Homo sapiens: one gene and its partners. The protein of the gene in region 7 purifies or fractionates together with the protein of the main gene of each other region. This does not show direct contact. Each region holds a gene or a part of one and is shown on either strand. Other genes may lie near its edges.

What was found.
Region 1: the proteins of RBPJ (region 7) and TFAP4 purify together in Homo sapiens (affinity purification with mass spectrometry; 2 studies listed by BioGRID and IntAct, with this or other methods). This does not show direct contact.
Region 2: the proteins of RBPJ (region 7) and ZNF589 purify together in Homo sapiens (affinity purification with mass spectrometry; 3 studies listed by BioGRID and IntAct, with this or other methods). This does not show direct contact.
Region 3: the proteins of RBPJ (region 7) and SFMBT1 purify together in Homo sapiens (affinity purification with mass spectrometry; 2 studies listed by BioGRID and IntAct, with this or other methods). This does not show direct contact.
Region 4: the proteins of RBPJ (region 7) and JMJD1C purify together in Homo sapiens (affinity purification with mass spectrometry; 2 studies listed by BioGRID and IntAct, with this or other methods). This does not show direct contact.
Region 5: the proteins of RBPJ (region 7) and SATB1 purify together in Homo sapiens (affinity purification with western blotting; 2 studies listed by BioGRID and IntAct, with this or other methods). This does not show direct contact.
Region 6: the proteins of RBPJ (region 7) and MAML3 purify together in Homo sapiens (affinity purification with western blotting; 2 studies listed by BioGRID and IntAct, with this or other methods). This does not show direct contact.

The regions. Positions count from the first base shown.
Region 1 is NC_000016.10:4,263,024-4,266,523, reverse strand, and holds part of TFAP4 (transcription factor AP-4), read left to right. Parts: exon of another isoform or gene 1-22; coding exon of another isoform or gene 23-72; exon of another isoform or gene 73-833; intron 834-1,641; exon of another isoform or gene 1,642-2,174; coding exon of another isoform or gene 2,175-2,857; intron 2,858-3,500.
Region 2 is NC_000003.12:48,244,104-48,247,603, forward strand, and holds part of ZNF589 (zinc finger protein 589), read left to right. Parts: intron 1-3,500. UniProt on the Homo sapiens protein: May play a role in hematopoietic stem/progenitor cell differentiation. May play a role as a DNA binding-dependent transcriptional repressor.
Region 3 is NC_000003.12:52,913,574-52,917,073, forward strand, and holds part of SFMBT1 (scm-like with four MBT domains protein 1), read right to left. Parts: intron 2,642-3,500; coding exon 2,577-2,641; intron 45-2,576; coding exon 1-44. UniProt on the Homo sapiens protein: Histone-binding protein, which is part of various corepressor complexes. Mediates the recruitment of corepressor complexes to target genes, followed by chromatin compaction and repression of transcription.
Region 4 is NC_000010.11:63,207,478-63,210,977, reverse strand, and holds part of JMJD1C (probable JmjC domain-containing histone demethylation protein 2C), read left to right. Parts: intron 1-1,742; coding exon 1,743-1,915; intron 1,916-2,176; coding exon 2,177-3,500. UniProt on the Homo sapiens protein: Probable histone demethylase that specifically demethylates 'Lys-9' of histone H3, thereby playing a central role in histone code. Demethylation of Lys residue generates formaldehyde and succinate.
Region 5 is NC_000003.12:18,394,340-18,397,839, forward strand, and holds part of SATB1 (DNA-binding protein SATB1), read right to left. Parts: intron 2,952-3,500; coding exon 2,840-2,951; intron 578-2,839; coding exon 123-577; intron 1-122. UniProt on the Homo sapiens protein: Crucial silencing factor contributing to the initiation of X inactivation mediated by Xist RNA that occurs during embryogenesis and in lymphoma.
Region 6 is NC_000004.12:139,885,185-139,888,684, reverse strand, and holds part of MAML3 (mastermind-like protein 3), read left to right. Parts: intron 1-196; coding exon of another isoform or gene 197-358; exon of another isoform or gene 359-700; intron 701-3,500. UniProt on the Homo sapiens protein: Acts as a transcriptional coactivator for NOTCH proteins. Has been shown to amplify NOTCH-induced transcription of HES1.
Region 7 is NC_000004.12:26,327,514-26,331,013, reverse strand, and holds part of RBPJ (recombining binding protein suppressor of hairless), read right to left. Parts: intron 1-3,500. UniProt on the Homo sapiens protein: Transcriptional regulator that plays a central role in Notch signaling, a signaling pathway involved in cell-cell communication that regulates a broad spectrum of cell-fate determinations.

The DNA of each region.
Region 1 (3,500 bases), on a different chromosome or scaffold from region 7:
CCAATCAGAAGCCTTGGTTAGAATGCATTCTATTAAAGGACTCTGTCGGCGGGTACTTCCAGGGCAATTTAGGTGAGTTATATTTGAGGGTCTTGGTGGCAGATTCAGGTCCCACGAGGAACTGTACCTTTTGGGGGGAAATTTGCTTTCTTGGATTTAAGAAAGTGCTTAACCTAAGTTAAGCACTAGGTTAGCCAGCAGCTGGTTTCTGAGCCAGGAGACTGGGCTGATGGCTTTGGAGAGGAAGGAGGCAGGATGGAGCATTGGAGAAGCTGGGCCGGCAGATTCTGATGCAGAGGAGGAGGCGACACAGGCCCCTGATCCCAGCCCCAGCTCCTCTTCCTTGTGAGAACTTCCGGCTGGGGTTTTCGGGACTGGGGTCTGGTGGTCTCCTTTGGTCTCCCAGTTAGTGGGCTGCCTTGCGGGGAAGGGACGGAAGAGGCTGAGGGTCAGCTCCCAAGAGCAGAGGAGTTGGTGGGACTTGGGCCGGGAGGTGCAGAAGGGTGCATCTGGCTGCACCCTGCCCTGCCCAGCTGCTGGGTGTGACCTTGGGCAAGTCACCTCACTTGTGGGCTTGTGTTCAGAGGGGCAGGGGTGATGGCTGAGCTTGCAGTCACACACCCGCTTCTGATAAGTGGCGGGCTGTGTGAACTAGCAGTCAGTAGAGGCGCTTCAGTGGGTTGGCATCTGCAGGTTGCTGTTGTGCCAGGTCTGGCTACTTGACCTTGGGATCATCACCTTCCTTCCCACGACCCTGCATTGCTTGCTCACTGTAATCTCGGCCACCCCACTGGGTTTTGTGAGAATCAGGCAGGGAAAAATGTCAACGAGGTCTGTGAATAATAAAAAGAGTTACACGATTACAGCGATTTCCGAATGCCTGGTCCTTTTTTTTTTTTTTTTTTTTTTTTTTTGAGACAAGGTCTCACTCTGTTGCCCAGGCTGGAGTACAGTGACATGATCACAGCTCACTGCAGCCTCAACCTCCTGGGCTTATTACATCCTCCCACCTTAGCCTCCTCAGTTGCTGGAACAATAGGGACACTCCACCATGCCTGGCTGATTAATTTTTTCTAGTGATGGGGTCTCACTATGTTGCCCAGGCTGGTCTTGAACTCTGGGGCTCAAGCGATCCTCCTACTTTGGCCTCCCAAAGTGCTAGGATTATAGGTGTGAGCCACTGTGCCCGGCCTAGTCTTCTCTTTTACAGGGATAACTGTCACCTGCCAGTTGGGGCATCTGGCTCTGTGGGCCGGTCAGAGCTCATTCTGCCCTATGGCCTGACACCTGCTCTGGGGTCAGGGTTCACGCCCAGCGCTTGCTGCAGCTGGACCCTACCCAAACCTCTGTGCCCCCCTCTTTACATGGGAGTCTTCAGGCCACCTGACTCAGGAACATTGTGACAATTCAGTGAGAAAATTCTCGCCAAAAACTTAAAAAAAAAAATGTATCCCTCTGTTGTGGACCCTCCAGGAGGGCCAGCTCTCAGGTGGCCCAAGGCTGGACTTGGTGCTCCCTTTTCACCCCCTAGTCAGCTCTGGCTTTTGGGCATTGCCAGGAGGGACCCAGGGGCTGGGTGGGCAGGGGTCTCTCCCCACATCTCTCCTGAGGGGGATGGTGATGCCTCAAGATTGCACTTACCTTGTGTTGTGGCTTCCTATGGACATCTCTTCCCACCTCTTACCTCCAAAGAGCCCCAGCTTTAAGCCACCCACTGCAGAGCAGTCCTGGTCCCCTTGGCCTGCTGGCCTCTCAGACATGGTATGGTCTGAGTTTGTGCCAGGCCTGGGAGCCTGGACTCCGCCCTAAGGCTGGGCCACACACAGCCGTGCAGCAGGCCTGCTCCAGTCCCCCTATCACCTCCACTTCAGGGCAGGGGAACCGGGAGAAGTGAGAGCACTGACATCCAGCTGACCGACCCTAAAACCATCCCCTCTCTGCCCTGCACCCTAAAGTCTCATGGAAAGTGGGGGGCCCGGGCCCCTTTTGCAGTGCGGACATTTCAAGACCCTGTAAGAGACTTGTACCCTGGGTGCAGGCCCTGGGCCTTTGGGTCCTGATGGAGGAGGGGGCTTGGCTTGATGAGGACGGAAGGAGGCTGATTTGCATCCAGACTTCCGGCGTTGGACACCTCTCTATTGGGAGAGGAAGCCGAGGCCGGGGAAGGGGCAGCGATGCGTCCAGGGTCCCACAGGGAGCCAAGGCTGGACAGATGGGCAGGCTGGGTGGGGCCAGGAAGGCCACGGCTGTTTCCAGCTGTTGCAGATGTGCTGCCTCCGGGGTCCGTGCAAACTCCTTTCCGCCTGCAGGCTGGCGAAGGGGCCAGGGCACACAGCAGGGGAGTTAGACTTGGCAGCCCCTTGACCCCAGACTGCCTTCATCAATGGAGCAGGAGCTGCCCAGAACCCTTTTCCTGTTCTCCCACATTCAGGGGCATGAGCCCCCTTGGCCCAGTCCTGGAACAGGGCACCCCGGGAGGGCCCCTCAGGAAGAGGCCGGGGCTGCGGCTTCGGGTGGGGCCGGCAGCCTCTGCTGAGAGCCCAGCATCTGGAAGCCATCAGGCCAGGGGCGGGGGGAGTTGCAGGGGAGGTCCAGGGAGGGGGACATGCCTCCTCCAGGCCACACACAAGCCCAACCCTCGGGAGCGTGGCCTTGGGCCCACAACCGCTGCCTCTGCACCCTGGCCCGCAGCCCCGCCCCCTGGCGCACACGCCCCGCCCTCGTCCGAAGCCACGCCCCCAGCCAGCAGCCACGCCCTCTTCCCCCAGGCTGCCTTCTCACCGCACTGGCCACTGCTCCTGCAAGGGTCAGCAGCGCTCCCCACAGCATGGTGGGAGCCTCGCTTCTCCGGCGCAGGGTGGGTCTATCTCTTGGAGTGGGTGGGCTGTGGGGAGCCGTGTCCCCAGGGGTTGTTGGCTTGGTGTCTTTTTGGGGAGTGAGTGGTACTTGTCTTCTGTGAAGTCTTAGCCTAGCGGGGCTGGGGCTTGTGGTGGGAGGCGTGGCCGTGAGGGTAGGAAGGGAGTGGGGACGTCTTCCTCAGTCCTGGGGTGGCAAAGCCTGAGACGCTGAAGAGGCGCTCCAGGTGCCTAGCAAATCACTCAGAAGTGTTCCAGGAGCGGGGACAGCGTCCCTGAATGTCGTCTGCATCCCGCGTGCATCAGAATCACACCACGCACGTTTCTGGGCCCCACCGGGCCTGCTAGTCAGACGCTGGGGCCAGCACCCGTCGTCTGCATAGTTTCTAAGCTCTTGGATGTTTTGATGCTCAGACACACTGGGAATTCTGTTCCGGAGGAGAGACTGCTCCCTGTGAGGAAAGCCAGGGAGGGGATGGGTTTTTGTTGTTGTTGTTGAGACAAGGTCTTGCTCTGTTGCCCAGACTGAAGTGCAGTGGCGTGATCATAGCTCACTGCAGCCTCCAACTCCTGGGCTCAAGCGATCCTCCCACTTCAGCCTCCTGAGTAGCTGGGACTACAGGCATGCACCACCACACCTGGCTA
Region 2 (3,500 bases), on a different chromosome or scaffold from region 7:
AGGATCCCTTAGTTCAGCTGTGTGAGGTTACTCTGTGTCCCTCATTTTTTTCCCACCTGCTCAGTGGGATCAGAACCACCTGTCCCTCTGGAAGGGAGAGGCTTAGATGGTCTTTTTTGCTGAAAAGACTGAGGAGCTGCCTCCTTGCCTTGTGCTTTGCTCAGATGTAGCCACTGGGAGTGGCCAAATAATGGTACTCAGTTTTTCTTCTTCTAAAACTTTAGAACTTGAAATAGTAAGATTGCTTTGTTTTCCTCCTGAGTTTAGTCAGGAAAACAGTAACTTGGAAAATTACCCCAGACAGTTATCAAACAAGACTATAATTTTATATATATATTTTTAATTTTAAAATGCTGCTCCATTTACACAAAAATGTGCAGTTCTGGATAGATACATAGTATAGGCACATATTATGGGGCCAGGATGATGGTTTTCTAGGGCATGCAAGAGGAGAAATTGTATATATGTCTTTATGAAATCACTTGACACATTCTCATCACTTAGTACAAAAGCCAGAGTTGTTGCTGGGGTCTGTTTAGAGTGTTTTCCAGGGGTGATGATTTCAGCAGGGGTGATGTCATTATCACATTTAGGGCCTTTTTTTTTTTCTTGCAAACCCAAGGACAAGGCTACCCTTAGCCTAATTCCCCACAGTAACTGCACTATTACTCTGGGGAGCTCAAAAATAGATGGGACGAATTATAAGCTTTTTTTTTTTTTTTCTTTGAGATGGAGTTTTTTACTCTTGTTGCCCAGGCTGGAGTGCAGTGGCACCATCTCAGCCCACTGGAACCTCCGCCTCCCGGGTTCAAGTGATTCTCCTGCCTCAGCCTCCCGAGAAGCTGGGATTACAGGCATGCGCCACCACACCTGGCTAATTTTTGCGTTTTTGGTAGAGATGGGGTTTCACCATGTTGGCCAGGCTGGTCTCGAACTACTTACCGCCCACCTTGGCCTCCCGAAGTGCTGGGATTATGGGCTTGAGCCACGCCCAGCCATTATAAGCTTATATGTATCTTTTCAGAGACAGGGTTTCCCCGGCTCTGTCACTGAGGCTGGAGTATAATGGTGTGATCTCTCACTTCATTGCAACCTTTGCCTCTGGGGCTCAAATGATCCTGCCACTTCAGCCTCCCAAGTAGCTGGGGCTACAGGTGTACACCACCACGCCCGGCTAATTTTTTTATTTTTTGTAGAGATGGGGTTCACCATTGCCCAGGTTGATCTTGAACTTCTGGGCTCAAGCAATCAGCCCACCTCGGCCACCTAACGTGCTGGGATTACAGGCATGAGGCACCGTGCAGAGCCTGGCCAGCTTCTATGTATCTTATAAACACATATGCCTGGAATAAAGGGTGTCAAGGAGGAAGCTTCAGACTGCTGCTAAGACCCTCGTCCCCCTGAGAGGCACTCCCTTCCCCAGACTCTGTCCCTTCTACAAAGGCACAGGTCACAGGTTAGAAATATGACATCCCAGTTCCTTTTCTGAACTTTCAGAATCAGTGACACCCAAGGATCAGAAAAACATTCTTCTTTCCCCTCAGCAAAGATATGGAAGAGAAGGCTGGGCGCGGTGGCTCACGCCTGTAATCCCAGCATTTGGGAGGCCGAGGCAGGCAGATCACCTGAGGTCAGGAGTTCGAGACCAGCCTGGCCAACATGGTGAAACCCTGTCTCTACCAAAAATACGAAAATTAGCCAGGCATGGTGGCAGGTGCCTGTAATCCCAGCTACTTGGGAGGCTGATGCAGGAGAATTGCTTGAACCCAGGAGGCGGAGGTTGCAGTGAGCTGAGATCGTGCCATTGACCTTCAGCCTGGGTGACAGAGTGAGACTCTGTCTCAAAAAAAAAAAAACAGATATGGCAGGGAAAGCTTGAGCTTCCCTCCAGAGATGTTAAAATCTTACCTTTTAAAATTCCACAATAGGCCAGGCGTCGTGGGTCATGCCTATAATCCCAGCACTTTGAGAGGCCAATGTGGGCAGATCACTTAAGGTCGGGAGTTCGAGACCAGCCTAGCCAGCATGGTGAAACCCCCATCTCTACAAAAAATACAAAAATTAGCTGGGCATGGTGGTGCATGCCTGTAATCCCAGGGAAGTTGAGGTGGGAGGATCACTTGAGCCCAGGAGGTGGAGGTTGTAATGAGCAGAGATTGTGCCACTGCATTCCAGCCTGGGCAATAGTGAGACCCTATCTCAATCAATCAATCAATCAATCAGTTCCACAATAATTTGAAGAGGAATGAGAGTCTGACAAGCTGCGCTTTAGAAATGCTGTTGTAATGGTCTTTAATACTTTTTTCTCCTTTTACTCATGCTCTTTTGTAAAATAAGGAATAACATTGACAAGTTTTTAAAACAATATAATAATTATTATTTTTATTATTAGAGATGTGGGTCTCATTGTCACCCAGGCTGGTCTTGAAGCCGTGGATTCAAGTGATCCTCCCACCTCAGCCTCCCAAAGTGTTAGGATTACAGGCGTGAGCCACTGAAACCGGCCTGACACATTTTTAAAAAATATTTTCATTAAATCACAGACTTCTGTTTCTGTGTTTAACATTTTCTTTTTTTTTTCTTGAGACGGAGTCTCGCTCTGTCGCCCAGGCCGGAGTGCAGTGGTGCGATCTCGGCACACTGCAAGCTCTGCCTCCCGGGTTCATGCCATTCTCCTGCCTCAGCCTCCTGAGTAGCTGGGACTACAGGTGCCCGCCACCACACCCAGCTAATTTTTTGTATTTTCAGTAGAGATGGGGTTTCACTGTGTTAGTCAGGATGGTCTCGATCTCCTGACCTTGTGATCGGCCTGCCTCGGCCTCCCAAAGTGCTAGGATTACAGGCGTGAGCCACCGCGCCTGGCCTAACATTTTCATAAACTATTTTCGAGATGGAGTTTTGCTGTTGCCCAAGCTGGAGTGCAGTGGCGTGATCTCTGCTCACTGCAACCTTCGCCCCCTGGGTTCAAGCGATTCTCCTGCCACAGCCTCCTGAGTAGCTGGGATTATAGGCGTGCACTACCATGCCTGGCTAATTTTTTTATTTTTAGTGGAGTTGGGGTTTCTTTGTCATGTTGGTCAGACTGGCCTCAAACTCCTGACCTCAAGTCATCTGCCTGCCTCGGCCTCCCAAAGTTCTGGTATTATAGGCGTGTGCCACTGTGCTCGGTCCATTTTCATAAATTAAAAAAAAACATGTAACTAGAGTCACATAACACATGGGGGGAAATGATGCCTTGTCTCAACAGTTTTGCTAATTTTTAGGGTAGAAAGATGATGAGTGCTTAGAGTTTACCTTACTACATTTAATTAAGATCAGTGTTTCTGTAAAAATGTAATAGGGAAGTGGTGCAGAGCATAGAGAAGTTGACTCAAGCATAAGGCAGGAGGTGAGAGGAGCTCAGGGTCTGGGTCAGCTGAGAAGGCTCAGGTGGCCACAGCCAAGGCTCAGAGGGCTCTTGGGGATCCTCATGATGGGCCTGGTAGGGCTGGCTTCTCAAG
Region 3 (3,500 bases), on a different chromosome or scaffold from region 7:
GTTGAAGTATATCTTTGGACAGCAATATTTTCCATTAATCATAACTGGGAAATGAAGAAAAACAAATATTCAAAACAGTCATTCTCTACCCCACGTTTCCAAAGCTGAACTGCCAGGGAAGAAAAACGAAGCACATGTACCATTATATTAATATAAAGTTTGGAATTACTTATTTTGAAGCTTAACATGTTGTCTGAGAATGCTCTTAAGTAACTTACAGAGCTTATCACTCTGCTGAAATCAAAGAGGGTCCTGAATTAACATGCTGATTAGTTCCTAGGTTACTGCAAAATTGATAGAAGAACCCTATCTTCTATTAATAAAGAAAGTGGAGGGTGTATTTTAAGAACACATGAGGATTCTGGATGATCAATGATTTCTTTTCCAGGTCTTCAAAAACCAACTTTCAATCATCTATTCTGGAATATTTATAGAAATTGTTGAATATTATTGAGAATTAGTTTGTCTCCTAAAAACCACCAAACTAATATGTTGGCAGCCTTTGATGTTGTGAGAGCAATCCCATCTCTGAGATTTCTCAGAGGGCTAAAAGTATGCTGTGACCACATCTCTAAGTTTTTTTTGTACTGTGGGGTATAACTGGGTCTGGAGACCCTTTTCTTCAACTATTTGTCTGTATCAATACTGTCCTTCAATTTAATGTTTTTAAAAAATCCCCTCATAGTGGTAGGCATGTCAGCTGTTGAATGTAAAAAATTCAAAGACACTAAAATACTGCTATAAAGCACAGAGAAGCTCTTCTAATAGATATGCCTGTTAATCCAATGTTAAGGAAAGATATGCGCACACTGCCCATTGTTGATAGGATCCTGCAGTTCATAATGTTTTCTCTTTAATTAAGAATAGTCACAGCCAGGTGTTGTGGCTCATGCCCGTAATCCCAGCAATTTGGGAGGCCAACGGGGGAGCACATCGCTTGAGTCCAGTTTGAGACCAGCCTGGGTAACACAGTGAAGCCCCATCTCTACAAAAAACAAAAACAAAAACAAAAACAAAAAAATCAGCCACATGTGGTGGCATATGCCTGTAGTCCCAGCTACTCGGGAGGCTGATGTAGGAGGACAGCTTGAGCCCAGGAGGTGGAGGTTGCAGTGAGCTGATATCACTGCACTGCACTCCAGCCTGGATGACACAGCGAGACCCTGTCTCAAAACAAAACAAAACAAAAAAACGATGGTCTATCATAGTGGCCAGTATGCTGGTGCTCACATTTCCAGTTGAACCCTGCAACCCAAATGCCTCTTTTCAGAATTAAGGCACTCATACCCCTGCTGCTGGGTATGTTGGCAGCTTACAGTTCCCAGTTTTATGTCTATTCTGGAATCACCCTGAACTGGGTACTGCTCTCAGCAGGAGAGGGCCACCTTGCCCCTTGTGAGGTGGGGAGGGAGCAGTGGCTTACTTCCAATAACTGGTCAGTAAAGTGTGGCCACCACACCTGAATTAGGATCAACTCTGAGTGGTTAGATCAGCTTCAGGGCTCCCAGTGGAACTAGAAGAAACTTCTGTTGCAACTGCATCATGGTTCAACTTATCTCTCTGCCCAATCCTACTTCCTTTACTCCTTCTAAGGAGCTGTTCCCAAAAATACTCCCCAATGAAACTCCTGAATGCATATGTCAGAGTCTCAGACTCTGTTTCCCAGGGAACCTGACCTATGACAAAACCCAAACCAAAAGGCCTTGGCTGAGGTTGTGCAGAAGATATTAATGTCTTAAATTCTGTGGTTTCAGTAGGCATTCGAATGGCCAGGAAAGCATCAAAAGCAAGGAGTTACACAGTCCTAACCCTCTATGTACAAATGATGTAATGAAAAGGCAGTAGGTACAAGAGACGGAAGTACGGGTTTCTAATTTGTGAAAGACTTCAGTTTCATTTCTGGTCTTTCTACTCATAAGCTGTGTGATCTCTCTGAGCTTCGATTTCTCTTCTAGGCATTTACTAAATATCACCCAAATGCGCAATCTGTGCTAGAATACACACAGCCAGGATGCTAAACATTACACAACAAGCACGTGGAAGTTAAGAATAGTTCAAGAGAGGACCCTGGACAAAAGGCTTGAACCTCCAGCAAGGATTTTTCTCTCATTTATCAGGCATTAATTGCCTCTGGGACAATTTCTTTTTCCATTGCTTTATTTTTTTCACATAAACTGTGAAATTTATATACAAAGTATGCATATCATAAAAAAGGGTTTTAAAAAGAATAAACTTCTACCTCTCAACCATCTAGCTTAAGAAAGAACACTGCCTGGAAAACTTCAGGTTCTTTAGCTAAAGTCAAGGATGGTAACATTGGCCTTCTGAGCCGTTGGCACACAACGGTTGATCAGTAAAGAATAGCTACAATTATTAGAAATGGACGGAACTATCAGCCTAGAGATGATTATTAAACTAAACACATCTTAGACAGTTATAACTCTAAAGTCACAATTAAGAGACCCCTCTATGAAGACACATACTATACATCAAATGTACTGTTTTAAGTTATTTTCAGATATAGTCCATTAAAAGAAACTAAGTCTTCTTTTCCTTAAGATGACATGTGCTTATACCTGACTCTGTGGAGTTCAGCTCCTGATTCCTCAGGCCCTCGTGGACAGTCCTCGAGGATGGTACTCTGGGTCAAGAAAACACAGTAAAATAGTGAGATAATTCTTAAGATCAGTAAAGTGTGAGGCTTAGTTTCCTTCAAATCTAAGAAGAAAGCAAATGTGGCATGTTCGCAAAATCTGTAACAGAAGGTACTCCCTTGATGATACTTTTTTTTTTTTTTTTTTTTTTTAAAAGAACAAGGCTGGATGCGGTGGCTCACGCGTAATCCCAGCACTTTGGGAGGCTGACGTGGGCGGGTCACAAGGTCAGGAGATTGAGACCATCCTGGCTAACACTGTGAAACCCCGTCTCTACTAAAAATACAAAAAATTAGCTGGGCATGGTGGCAGGCACCTGTAGTCCCAGCTACTAAGGAGGCTGAGGGAGGAGAATGGCGTGAACCCAGGAGGCAGAGCTTGCAGTGAGCCGAGATCGTGCCACTGCACTCCAGCCTAGGCAACAAAGCAGGACTCTGTGTCAAAAAAACCAAACAACAACAACAACAACAACAACAACAAAAAACTACAACAACAAAAAAGAACAATTGTTTTTAAAACTATATATAGGGCATAATGAGCCAATGGACAGTCTGTATATAGCATTGTGATACTACATGTTCAAACTTTCTCTTCATTCACTGGGCAAAAAAATTACAAAATTTCTTGTGAGATGCTTAAATCACAAATAAACTACTCATTTTTCAACAGTCAAAGAACAGAAACTTTATATAGGGTTCGTTTTCTTCGTCCATCAGTTTTCAAATTAAAGACAAATTATGTTATTTAAAAAAAAACAGAGGCTTATTCTGTATGTAGCAATCACTGAAAAAAGGCTAATTTATCTTTTAGAATGCATCCTAACTAAAGCTTTGGATCAGTTTTGGC
Region 4 (3,500 bases), on a different chromosome or scaffold from region 7:
CATTTGAGGTTGACAAGATCTCAGTTCCAGAATTATGCTGCCATTGATCACAAGCTTTCCATTACCATTTTGGAGGGTGCCGTTGCTTTTGTCGTAGATGGGAGTCATACTGGAACCTGTGTGTTACATAGTCAAACTCAGTGAAGAATCACTAATCACTATATTATCCTCTTTACCAGAATAGAAAGCAGGCCTGGTGACCCAAGTGCCCTACTGTACTCAGATTATTAATTCAAGGTTTCTATTTTTATTGTTGCACTCACATGTTTATTCTGACCCTTCACTCTCACGTCATTAATGTAGCTGCAGCTGCACAAAGATAAGCTAGCTAGAGGAACACAGGAGAGCCAAGAGCTGGCTAACAGATTTGTGTCTTTTTCCTTAACATCCAAACTCTTGAAAACAGATTTAAGTAACTTAAAAATGGCTTGGAAGGGAGCAATACTCAGTATGTGTCACATGTATATGGACTTAGACCATGACTGTCTAGCCTCTGTGTTTATAAGTACATAAAATATTTTATTAACTGGTCATAAATGTGTTAAACTAAAAACAAGTGTATCAGATTTTTATTTGTTATATAAAATTACAACATAAAGGAGTAAATTTGAATAACATTTTGAGGAAAAATAAAAATATCTTACCCCCTACTATTGACCAAAAGTGAAGAAACAATACAAGCATAAGACACTATTATTGAGAAATAATTTTGAATGGCATTTTATAGAGCAAAACTTTGTTGTCATTGCCATAATTGATTGCTGTTTAAGATTTCTGGATCTTATAGAACTGAGGCCGTTTGAGACACATATTTGATCCTTATGTGTATATTTATGTATTTTTCTCTTATGTGGGGTTTATGGCTATAGTGTATGTTTTTAATTTCATAGCAGTATATTTTTGGTGTGACATACTGCTTTTGCATTATTTTGAGAAGTAAAACGTATTCCCTTTGTTAGAGAAAATACAAAGGAGGTTGTATTTTCCTGCTATTTGACTATCATCCTATTAACAAATTCATAAAACATGTTCTGGAAGGATGTCAGTGAGTCAGAATATAGAAAAATCCTTAAGCATGTAGTCAGATAGCTGTATGTCTCGATGAAGAGGTTGCTGTCACCTTATATTCAGTCATGAGACAGGCAGCATATTGATGTATAAAATTAACTTTATTAGACTTCTACACCTCCAAGCTTAATGGTGCAACCTTGTTTATAGCTTAGAGTGAAATGGGGAGTGCATTTGGGTTTTGAAATGTAATTATCTGCCAATTGTCAGTAAATTGTTACATTGGAAAAGTTAAATTTTTTGATGACAAAAATTGACAAATGAATTTGGTTATAATTTCTATTTCTGATGAAATGTGTTTTAGGAATAATATTCTGTTTTTACTGTTAGCAATATACTTTTGCTGTTAGAATCAGGAAATCATATAAACTAGGTTCTGTATATGGCATTTATAGTAAATTTAAGGCACTGATTTCAAGATCTGTTTTTAGTAAGATGACAATAAATTATTTAATACTGATTATGATATGGAAAAATCTGTTTAATTATGTTATTATTTGTCTGAATATTTCTCATAAGATGTATTTAGAAAAAGTTACAAGTTTCCCAAAGAAACTGCTATTTGAATGAACTAATAAACCACCAAGATCATACCCAGTTCTACTGTGACACGGTGTTTAGCTTTTTCTAGTAACTGAAATCTAGGTGTTTTTTTTGTTTTGTTTTGTTAATAGAATTCTCCCAGTCCTTGGCTACATCAGCCCACCCCTGTGACCTCAGCAGATGGTATTGGATTACTTAGTCACATTCCTGTCAGACCTTCCAGTGCAGAGCCTCATCGGCCTCTTAAAATTACAGCCCATTCCAGTCCACCATTGACAAAAACTTTAGTAGATCATCATAAGGAGTAAGTTCACCAGTGCTTAAAAATTATAAATACCTTGTTCATAATTTTTCTTAATTTGCCTTTTAAATAGTTAATTTTAAGTTAACACATATCTTAAGATTAGGCTTTGTTCTGTTTTGATATTTCTTCAAATTTATTATAGTATTAGAGTACATGCAAAGATGTCTTTTACTTTCATAATAGAATGATATTGCATAGAAGCTGTCTTTGTATTTTGCAGGAAAAAGTGGTTACAGAAATATTTGTGTATTTTCTTTACAGAGAATTAGAAAGAAAAGCTTTTATGGAACCATTACGGTCTGTTGCATCCACATCAGCCAAAAATGACCTGGATCTAAATAGGTCACAGACTGGAAAAGATTGTCACTTACATAGGCATTTTGTGGATCCAGTATTAAATCAGTTACAGAGGCCACCCCAGGAGACTGGAGAGAGGTTAAACAAATACAAAGAGGAACACCGTCGAATTCTTCAAGAAAGTATTGATGTTGCTCCCTTTACAACTAAAATCAAGGGACTTGAGGGTGAGAGAGAGAATTATTCCAGAGTGGCATCATCATCTTCCAGTCCTAAAAGCCATATCATCAAACAAGATATGGATGTAGAACGCTCAGTATCAGATCTTTATAAAATGAAGCACTCAGTGCCTCAGAGTTTACCCCAAAGTAACTATTTCACTACATTGTCTAATAGTGTGGTCAATGAACCACCAAGATCATACCCATCCAAAGAAGTTTCAAATATTTACGGTGATAAACAGAGTAATGCCCTTGCAGCGGCAGCAGCTAATCCTCAAACTCTGACTTCATTTATAACATCTCTTTCAAAGCCTCCACCTTTGATTAAACACCAACCAGAAAGTGAAGGTTTAGTAGGCAAGATACCAGAACATCTTCCACATCAGATTGCATCTCACTCAGTAACAACCTTCAGAAATGATTGTAGGAGTCCTACCCATTTGACAGTTTCTTCTACAAATACACTCCGCAGTATGCCTGCATTACATAGAGCACCAGTATTTCACCCACCAATCCATCACAGCCTGGAAAGAAAGGAAGGCAGCTATAGTAGTCTTTCCCCTCCAACTTTAACTCCGGTGATGCCAGTAAATGCTGGTGGTAAAGTTCAAGAATCACAGAAGCCTCCAACTCTAATACCCGAACCAAAAGACTCCCAGGCAAATTTTAAGAGTTCTTCAGAACAGAGTTTGACGGAGATGTGGAGACCTAATAATAACCTCAGCAAAGAGAAAACTGAATGGCATGTGGAGAAAAGCAGCGGAAAGTTACAGGCTGCTATGGCATCTGTCATTGTGCGTCCATCTTCTAGTACAAAAACTGATAGTATGCCAGCAATGCAGTTAGCTTCTAAAGATCGTGTTAGTGAAAGATCTTCAGCTGGGGCACATAAAACAGATTGCCTCAAACTAGCAGAAGCCGGAGAAACTGGAAGAATCATTTTGCCAAATGTGAATTCAGACAGTGTTCACACAAAATCTGAAAAAAACTTTCAGGCTGTCTCACAGGGCAGTGTTCCCAGTTCAGTCATGTCTGCTGTAAATACGATGTGTAATACCAAAACGGAT
Region 5 (3,500 bases), on a different chromosome or scaffold from region 7:
ATCACATGAAGAGAGAGAGAAAATGTTAGTACAGAAGTAAAAGAATAAACTTTAGTTATAGATGGGACTAAAGAAAGAGAAAATAGGAGACAGCACAGAACCACTTATGAAACACAACTGACCTGAGTTCTGTTAAAAGCCACACGTGCAAATACCGCCTGGGAGATTCCTGCTCGTTTCAGTTCATCGCGTACCCACTGGTAGATTTCGGAAGACACCTCTGTGTTGGTCGAAACCTGTTGCTCCAAAGGCTTATTCATAGATCTACTGACAGGGGGAGGGTGGTTCAAGTATTGTTGGTTTAAGGACTGCTGGGCTAAAAGTCTATTCACTGCATACTGCTGGTTCAGCAGCTGAGCCATCACCAGCTGCTGGTTGACCAATTGAGGACTGATAGGTGTTGATACGAGCCCAGGGTGCAGGTTTGGAAGAGGTGTCCGGACAGAGGGCTGGCTGCCATGGGAGAGCTGCGCAGGGGATGGAGGCTGCTCGGCTGTGTTCCCTGGAACTGGTTGCTGGCCAAAATTGACATGATTGGCGCCTTGCTGGGATAGCTCAGAAAGACTATCCATTTCAACTAAAGTGGACAAAGAGTAAAATCACATTCAGCCAACAATGATTGGCATTGATAAAGATTTCTAACCATTTCCTAAATTAAAAAAGGGTAGGCACAGGGCACACCCCAAATCCAATAAAACCAAGAAAATTTCAAGTTGCAACTTACCAGGCTGTGTTTTTGCTCTCCTTTCCTGAACAATTCTACAAACTTTGGAAATGGGACAGCATTCCTAATCTTATTTTTAAAAAGTGGTTTAGATTTAAGGCATAAAATCAATTATTACCCAAACTCTTTCCAACTAGTTGTTCACTCTCACTTATTACCCCAAGAAGGCTTCTAAGCAACAATTTTTAAAAATGGCTTCTAAAAGAATGTCATTTGCTTAATGACAACTACAAACAGTGAGCTGAGCTGAGAAAATAAGCTTATAATAAGCAACTAAAAAAATTTACAAATATATTCTCATGATATTCATTAACTTTAGTACTCTAGGAAAAAGGTGTAAAAGAAAAAATATGACATAAAAAGTCACCTACTTTCAATTTTTACCCAGCAGTGAATAGAAGTAGTTAATGTAATAAATAAAAATGGGCATAATAATAAGTGTATATTGAACACTTGCTGAATATCTTATATGCCTTGCTTCATTTTAATTCTAACCATCATGGGCAGTAGGTATATCTGGAAATACTTTTTAGAATAAAGCAAGTGATTTATTGTATATCAAGCCAGCATACCCAGTGTTGCTAAGATCCAAATGTTTTTTCTTCAGGAAGCTATGGCCATCACCAGATGCTAAAGACAATCTTGCAGGGAATCGTTCTGGTACAATGGTGAGGCTGTCATGATTTTGCAATTTATTCCCACCTACCCAGGATGAATGCTTCTTCCTTGGCTAGGTTCCTCATATGGATTGGCTGAGCATCATCTCTAAGTATGTAAATGCTTTTCTGTACGAAGAGGAGACTGGTTCGATGCTCTTGGCTGGAAGGGCTGAGCATGAAGCTGTACATAAACAGGACTTTCCAAATTGTACACAGACTTCCCACATGTAGACTCTAGTTTGATTTTAATCATCAATTCTCTTTTCATTAAATATGCAGGTTTTACATTTAGAGGAACTTTATCATAGCGCTATAGCTCCTGATATACGCAAAATATAACTAAGAATTGGGGAAGAAATCTTCAATTTCTACCAGTGATATCAGCCCAAGTGGGCCATTCACAGAGAACAGTAATTCAAGCAATTATTCCAAAAATGATGCATTGTCTTCATTACAGCCTTAAGCTATAAAAGGCAAAGAATCCATTTTGGTAGATGGATGGTTTTTCTTCAAATATTAAGAGCTAAAACTTGCTCAAAATTTGGATTAATTTTTCTTAAAAAATTAAAAAAAAATTAAATGAATGTAAAGAAATAAATAGAAATAGATTTAAAACAGGACATAATGCCCATTCCTATATTATTTTAAAATATATGTTTTGGAGGGTAAAAGTAGGTGAAAGAGAACAGTAATAAAAATTAAAACATTAACCTTAATCACAGTGTTTGCTTTTGTGAACATTAACAAACTCAACAGAGAGAAAATGCCATCATCTAAATGCTTAGGTACCATACACAACTTTTATCTATCATTTTACACTGCAGATAATTTTAGTGTACTTCTTGCATAACAAATATTCACCTAAAGTTATGTGTTAAGATAGAATGCTACCTTGGAATTAAAAGTTCAGAAATGATGCAATAATTGTTCTGGTATGGATGGTAAAGCAATGTGCTTATCAAAGTGCCCATCCATGGCGGCTGGGGGTTAGAGCTATAAAAATCACTTGATCTCTACTGTGGAAACTATAAATAGTTTAATTTAAGAAGTTTAATTTCCTTTAAAATTGGGTGTAAAAATAGGCACTTTCTCATTCAACCAGACAAAAACAAAAAACCTAAAAGCAAGACTTATCAGAGAAAGAAATCACAGCTAATATTAGTTATTCAAGGCCTGGTTAGGTCTTCACTGAGTTGTTAAAAAATGACAGCTCCCCTCCCAACGCCTCAATTTCCTGCATGTCTGACAACCAAGTCAGTTTGGCTGATTTAAACACAAACATTTATTGAATTTAATTATCTCATTATACTCATACCCACTTCCCACCCCCAAAGAAACATTCTAAATTGATCTCTAATTGGGCAATCAAAAGACCTGGCTTTAGATGTGACTTTGATAAACCCCCAAATGACACGTAATGGTATGTAGCCACTGCTGCAATGTTTTTTTTGCTTACCCATCATATCTTTTGTCTTCTTGAAATGTTTGTACCACCTTCCAAATTCTTGACATTTTGCTGCTGAGACATTTGCATAGTAAGTACTGTTCACAATGGAAGAAATCATACTCTGCATGAAGAAGGGGGGAGAATATTTGTAATACACAGCAGCACAAGATGGAACACAGAAATGATCTCAATTGTGGCAACTGTATTTTTTTAATCAACTGAGTACCAATACATTTTGGTTTCACACTTTAGCCTAAAGCTTCGACTTCTTAATATTCATTAAGTAGATCATCAAATGCTTATTTAAGTAGAAAGCAACAGCCCACTGAGACCAGTATAAAGCTATCAAACCCACAGACTTTGCTCTAGCATTCATTGAATCTCCATCAATGCCATCTATTACTAGGCTGTCAAACTCACTGGTCCCAATAAATCCAAATACATGAAGATGACTTTATAATTGTGACTCATAAATATACGAGACTTCGCGATTTTTTGACTGGACTCTACATCTTTTCTACTCAAAGTATAGACCAGGGACCAGCAATATGGGCATCACTTGGAAGCTTGTTAGAAATGCAGAATCTTGGGCCCTACCCCAGACCAGTGCACTTAGCAGCTGAATTTTACCAAGATCCCAGGGGATTCACATGTATATTAAAATTTGAGA
Region 6 (3,500 bases), about 110 Mb from region 7:
TCTTAGTGCTGTATTAAAGTCTCTACTTTCCCACTGTCCTCCTTCATGGGAGGTTGGGCTCTTGGTATGCATGGTAAAAAATGAGCAGCAACCAGTCGGGAAGTGAATAGTCATTGACAAGCTTTTCAGTCTCTTCATCCTGACCAGTGGCAAACAGCCAAAGCTCCTTTAATATAACATTTGTTCTACCCTGAAGGAGAGAGTGGGGAAATGCCCATTAAAGCGACTCCCCCTGCCCTACATGGATGAATTCAAGAGAGATCATCTTACTGCCAGTTGCTGTGCTGTGCCTCAATTCTTCCAGGATGCAGACATGGTCATTTTACTTGGAGAATTTGCAGAAAAGTCTTTGCTTTAGAGGCCCTCATGTCTAAACAGGTTCTAACTAGTGCTTGGGTAGGTGTCCACAGTTGAGTACTTTAGAAGCACTGGGAAATAACGCAGGCAGATCTTGCCTCACTTGGTTATTTGCATCTTGTAGCTCCTGGAGTGCCCCACCCCACCCCCGAAACCCCAAGCTTGATGGAGCTGCAGGGCTGGAGGTGGTGCTGGCCTGCAGAGACAGGCCTGAGCTCTGTGGCTTCATTCTTGTCCTCAGCCTTACAACCCCCAAACCTCACAGTGGCTTCTTGTCTGCACATGCCAGCCGGCTCTAAAGATTCCGTCTGGATAAATAAAAGTATAACTTGGTTTACATTGACTGCAATCAGTAGCTACTAGAAAAATATCATTGAAATGTGAACTTCTATATATTATCTTAGTTTCATTAAGAATATATACCATTGGGGAGATAACAGCATTTTATATACTCCAGATTAAGTTCTGAAGCAGGCAGAAATATAGGCAATATACATGAATGTTTGTAGTAGCCCAGGCGTGTCAGAAGGTTTATGAGATCACAAGCTGTCAGAATGGTCTGTTGTTAATACAAATTGTGCTTCTACATTCGCTGTTCTTACACTAGCTACAGTAGAGTATTTCCTTCAAGCCAGACCAAAGATGAATAATTAATTCCAGTTCACAGGCTCTGCAGACATGTGAGTGCAATGATGCACCTATCCTCACCCCCACTAAATGTCTTTCAAAATGTGCCAACTTGGGACAAGTTCCTGTCTTTGCGGGAACATGAGTTTTAAGGGTACTTCTTTGAGGTCCTTATGCCTGCCTAACTATGTGTCACTGAAGCTGGTAGCTGCAGAGGTCATGTTTTGAAAGAGCTCAGTCAGCTGAAGAAGCAAAGTGATGTTTTTCTGGATTAAATCTGTGTGCTCCTCCTCTCTTCTCTCGTCTCACGAAGTATTTTCAGTGTGGACAGAATGTTCTTTTGTGAGTCCTCATTAGAATAATCACTTCTTAACCTCACAAAATCTCATCAGGTAAAAGCGTGCTTTTTAATGAAATATTAACTCACCACTGTTTGAAACGAGCTTCAAAATACATATATAAACATGTGAATGTCTTTCTGCAAACATATCATTTATTTCTTGTTTTTATCTGATTGTGAAGCAGTATTTACATAGTTCTCAGAATAGTTCATTACATTATATGCGGGTACATTCCACAAATACGAGCACGAATTACAGGTACGATATAAAATATAATTATACATAGGTTTAGTTCAGTTTCGTTTTCTGCTATTGCTAGTGAAAACTCACTTTATTCTTTGTTGATCACAATGACCATGATCAACATTTCGTTTTAATGAATGACTTCAGCAGCAAAGCCTTTTAGGCACGTTTATTTCAAGAAAATTGTCTTTTACAGATGTTTACTTATTTGGAACATTTGTATAAAATGCCATCTCAGAAATGAATAGGAATGCGCTTACTTCCTGTATATTTCAAAAAACAGGGAAACAAAAATAGAAACAAAAGATATTTCAAAATTTTGAATGTGTTTTATCTAGTAATTGCATTTCTCAGAATTTACATATTATTCTTTTTGATCAGATGGTTGAACAAAGATTATGCTCATGGTGTTACTTATGATAGTGAAAACTTTGATCCAAAAATAAGTATTTTGGAAAAATAAATACGTACATGACATTCATGATATAAATGAATGACTAATCATATGGAAATGCTCATAATATGAATAAAATAGATCATAAAACAATTATATGTTACAATCCAAATTGTGACTTTTAATATGTGTAGAAAAATACTGAATAACTAAAATGTTATTTTAGGAATTCTAAATACTGAATTCCTAAAATGTTAGGAATGATATTTATTTCTGGCTGGAAAAATTATGAGTGATTATTGTTTTCCTCTTTATATTTAACTGAATTTTCTAAACTTTCTATCATACATGTGTATTAATTCTACCCTCTGGGAAAATACTTTTTTAAGGAAGGGAAACTCCCTACTTAAAAAAGTTTACCCTTCGTTAATTCTTTTTTTAAAAAAATTCTTAGTTGAATTGATTTGCCAGTTGGATTGAGACAATATCATTATTTGCTATTCATTGACATATATTAGTTGTGAATCCCTGCTTTAGTGAGTAGTCCTAAAACCTGCCTCCCACACTCAGTTTCTTTTCCATTCTGTCTCCTAATCCCTTTACCATGTTCTCATTCCTAGAAAATTTTAGCTAAATTAGTGACAGTGAAAGTAGCAATAACATTTTTTACCATTAAAAGTTTTTGAATCTTCTCTGAGATATGTTCTTATATTATTTCTTTGTTCTTATATTATTTCTTTATTCCCTTTACTTTTTTTCTCTTTCTTTTTTTTTTTTTTTTTTTTTTTTTGAGACGGAGTCTTGCCCTGTCGCCCAGGCTGGAGTGCAGTGGCGCGATCTCTGCTCACTGCAAACTCCACCTCCCGGGTTCACGCCATTCTCCTGCCTCAGCCTCCCGAGTAGCTGGGACTACAGGCGCCTGCCGGCACGCCTGGCTAATTTTTTTTTTTTTTTTGTATGTTTAGTAGAGACAGGGTTTCACCGTGTTAGCCAGGATGGTCTCGATCTCCTGACCTCGTGATCCGCCCGCCTCAGCCTCCCAAATTACTGGGATTACAGGTGTGAGCCACGGCGCCCGGCCTACTTTTTTTTTTGTTTTAAAACCTTCTGGAACTTCTATTCATCATGGACTAAACCTCCCAGATTGTCTCTAATTTTCTTCTTACCAGCTTCACTTTTTAAACATTAATACATAATATTTACACATATTTATGGGGTACATGTGATATTTTGTTACAGGCATAGAATATGTAATGATCAAGTCAGGGTATTTAGGGCATCCATCACTGTATTTATTCTTTCTTTCTTTCTTTTTTTGAGAAAGAGTCTCACTTTGTTGCCCAGACTGGAGTGTAGTGGCACTATCATAGCTCACTGCAGCTTTGAATTCCTGGACTCAAGCCATCTTCCCACCTCATACCCCAAGCAGCTGGGACTACAGGCATGTGCCACCATACCTGGCTAATTTTTTTTTTTTAATTTTCAGTAGAGACAAGGTCTCACTATGTTGCCCAGTCTAGTGTCCAACCACTGAACTG
Region 7 (3,500 bases):
TGGGTACTTTTAGAATATATGATTAGTAAGGTCTTCTCTGGCTCTAAAATTTCCTGAATCTAATGGATTTAATAATATATATCACACGTGTCACACAGGATGTAGTTACCTTTCTATGTTATGTAAGTTACCATTAGATGGTATGTTACTTCTCAATAGGAAGAGTACAATACAAATAAGAGCACACAGAATCATAGCCTAGCATCAGTACACACCACGCTTCATCATCGTTCATCAAATCCTCTGAGAAACAAATCCTCACAATATCTTCCTTTAAAGCAATTTACGCAGTCATAACAACAAAAAACAATGCCTAAAATCAAACCATCATGCCTCACTTTAAGCACATTGAGAGATGGGGAAATGTGCTTTGTTCACTTGTGAATTTCATTGAGCTTCCATTCTGCTTCTTTCTACAGGACATATTCTAAAGGCATTACACTTTTCTAATTTTCAACAGTCTAAATGAGTTTTCTATATGATATGTGTTTCATATTCCACTTCAAAAAATATAGGTACAGAAAAGGCAAAAAAGTGAATATAATCCGGGGGTCAGTTTCTACGTGGGTTTCTAGGTAGAAAAACCTATCTATGCTGAATGTCAGCTTTATCAAGACCAAGAGCCACCTAGTGGCAAGTGTTATATATTACCAAATCTGCTCAAGCCATATTCATCCAGCAAATAACATTCTGGCAGATGGTAGGTGCTCCACAATTGTGCAAGGTAAGTAAAATAATTGCTCCTTTTCTTATGAAGCTCACTGACAGATTAAACAATCAATTACAGATAAATTTATATAATTGCAGAACAATGTTAAGTGTAACAGAAGTATGCAAAAATAAGCATCCAGCATTTATTAAAGACCTACAATAAGCACAACACTTTGTTAAAAAGGTTCTCTTGTATCTGTTCACCTTACTCAGAACTTTCCCTTTTCTGATTATTTTATCACCAGGTTTTAATTTCAGGTTTTTTCCTACCCTCCCTTCTGAAGGGGGTGTACCCCACTCCCATCTTACCCTTTAAATTCCACACTTCAGAAAAGGGGTAAGGAGAACCTATTTATTGAGCACCTACTATTACCAGAACCAAGCTAGGCATTTTCTTTTTTTTTTTTTGGAGACAGAGTCTCACTCTGTCGCCCAGGCTGGAGTGCAGTGGCGTGATCTCGGCTCACTGCACGCTCCGCCTCCCGGGTTCATGCCATTCTCCTGCCTCAGCCTCCCAAGTAGCTGTGACTACAGGCGCCTGCCAACACGCCCAGCTAATTTTTTGTATTTTTAGTAGAGACAGGGTTTCACCGTGTTAGCCAGGATGGTCTCGATTTCCTGACCTCGTGATCCGCCCGCCTCGGCCTCCCAAAGTGCTGGGATTACAAGCGTGAGCCACCGCGCCCAGCCGGCCCAGTAGGCATTTTCTATCTCTTATTAATCCTCACATCAATACCATGAGGTATTATTTTCTTCCATTTTTTAGACAAAGGAAAAGACCTAGCTTAAGTGAAATGCTCATAGCCACAAACTTATTTTAGTGACTTACAGTACAATTATTCCCAAGTTCCCTACATCACCCTGCCTCAAAAAGAGCTTCTTGGCCTATTCATTCCTAGGCCCACCACCAAAATCAGATTTTGATTATATTTCTCTTATGGTGTCCACCAATTCCAATCTATTTTACACTGTTTACATCCAGCCCTACCTCATCTTAAAACCCTCAATGCCGCCAGGAACGGTGGCTCATGCCTGTAATCCTAGCACTTTGGGAGTCTGAGGCGGGTGGATCACCTGAGGTCAGGAGTTCGAGACCAGTCTCACCAACATGGAGAAACCCCGTCTCTACTGAAAATACAAAATTAGCTGAAAGTGGTGGCGCATGCCTGTAACCCCAACTACTCGGGAGGCTGAAGCAGGAGAATCATTTGAACCCGGGAGGCATATGTTGCGGTGAGCCAAGATCGCACCATTGCACTCCAGCCTGGGCAACAGAGCAAAACTCCGTCAAAACAAACAAACAAACAAAAACCTCAATACCTTACCCTTGTCCTCTGTATCCCTGATTAATATTCAAATAATCACCTTAGGCCATCCATAATCACACCACATTGGGAGACCAAGGCAGAAGGATCACTTGAGCCCGGGAGCTCTGGACCAGCCTGGAAAACATAGCAAGGCTGTCTGTACAAAAAAAATGTTTTAAATTAGCTGGGGTTGCTGGCGCACACCTGGGTTTGGTGGCACACACCTATAGTCCTAGCAACTGGGGAGGGTGAGGCAGGAGGATCCCTTGAGCCCAGGAGGTTGAGGCTGCAGTGAAGTACGACTTTGCCACTGTATTCCAGGCTGAGCAACAGAGCAATGAGACTGTCTCTAAAAAACACCAACCAGCCAAAAAACCAAATAATCAGGTTAGCACTCAAGGTCTTCCAAGAGGCTCCCAATTACTTTTCCAGCTTAATTTCCCATCACTCCCTATCAACTCTCACCTTTTCTATGAACTCCAAATGAAGATAATCATTTACATCTGTGTTCCCACCAACACTAAATATCGGTTACAGCACTTACCATAATCTCCCTTACACAATAATTACCTGTGTACACTCTACCAAGTCATGAGCTTCACCAAACCATTTCTTAGCCATCTTTATAGGACCAGCACAAAGAGTGTCTTATACCTAATAAGTGTTCAACTGCTTATTTAATAAATATATTGTTATTAAAACAATACTAAAAGGAGAGCCACTAAAGCATGGTTATACTATTAACATTTTCCTTAACACCCCTCCTACATGTCTTAGGACCCCAGTGTTTCTGCTTACTCCAAATGGTGTATGGATTAGGAGCTTTGTACAGATCTAGGTAATTTTTTGCATGAAAAATGTTATCAAATTAAAAAAAAAAAAAGATGTGAAAAAACATGCTGGCAAAATCAGGCACAATCTTTGCAGATCTGCAGTTTTCCAAAAGGGAACATATACCTTTGTTCTATTTATGCAAACCAGTCTAAAGCTAGTTTGTACTGGAGGAAATTAAGCTATGTCCATAATAGACTGTTCACATTATTTTAAAAAAACTACAATATTACATTTATATTTCATAAAGCAATACTGTACTTCTATAACACAATATCATACTTATAAAAAAGTTTTATAGAGTGAAAAACTTTTTTTTTGAGACAGGGTCTTTCTCTGTCACCCAGGCTGGAGTACAGTGGCATGATCACCATTCGTTGCAGCCTCAAACTCCTGGGCTCAGGCCATCCTCCTACCTCAGCCTCCCAAAGTGCTGGGATTACAGGCCTGAGCTACTACTGCGCCCAACATTAAATATTTTTTCTCCTGTTATGTAAACTTTTTATGAGAAACTACTCTTATCACTTACAACTCTGATTATCATCTCATTAACAATGCACAGATAATCATTAGCTCTTAGGCTAAGACTACTGAATACAAAAAAAAAAAAAAAAAAAAAAAACCTCCAGGGTCAACTTGATTCTCTAGTGT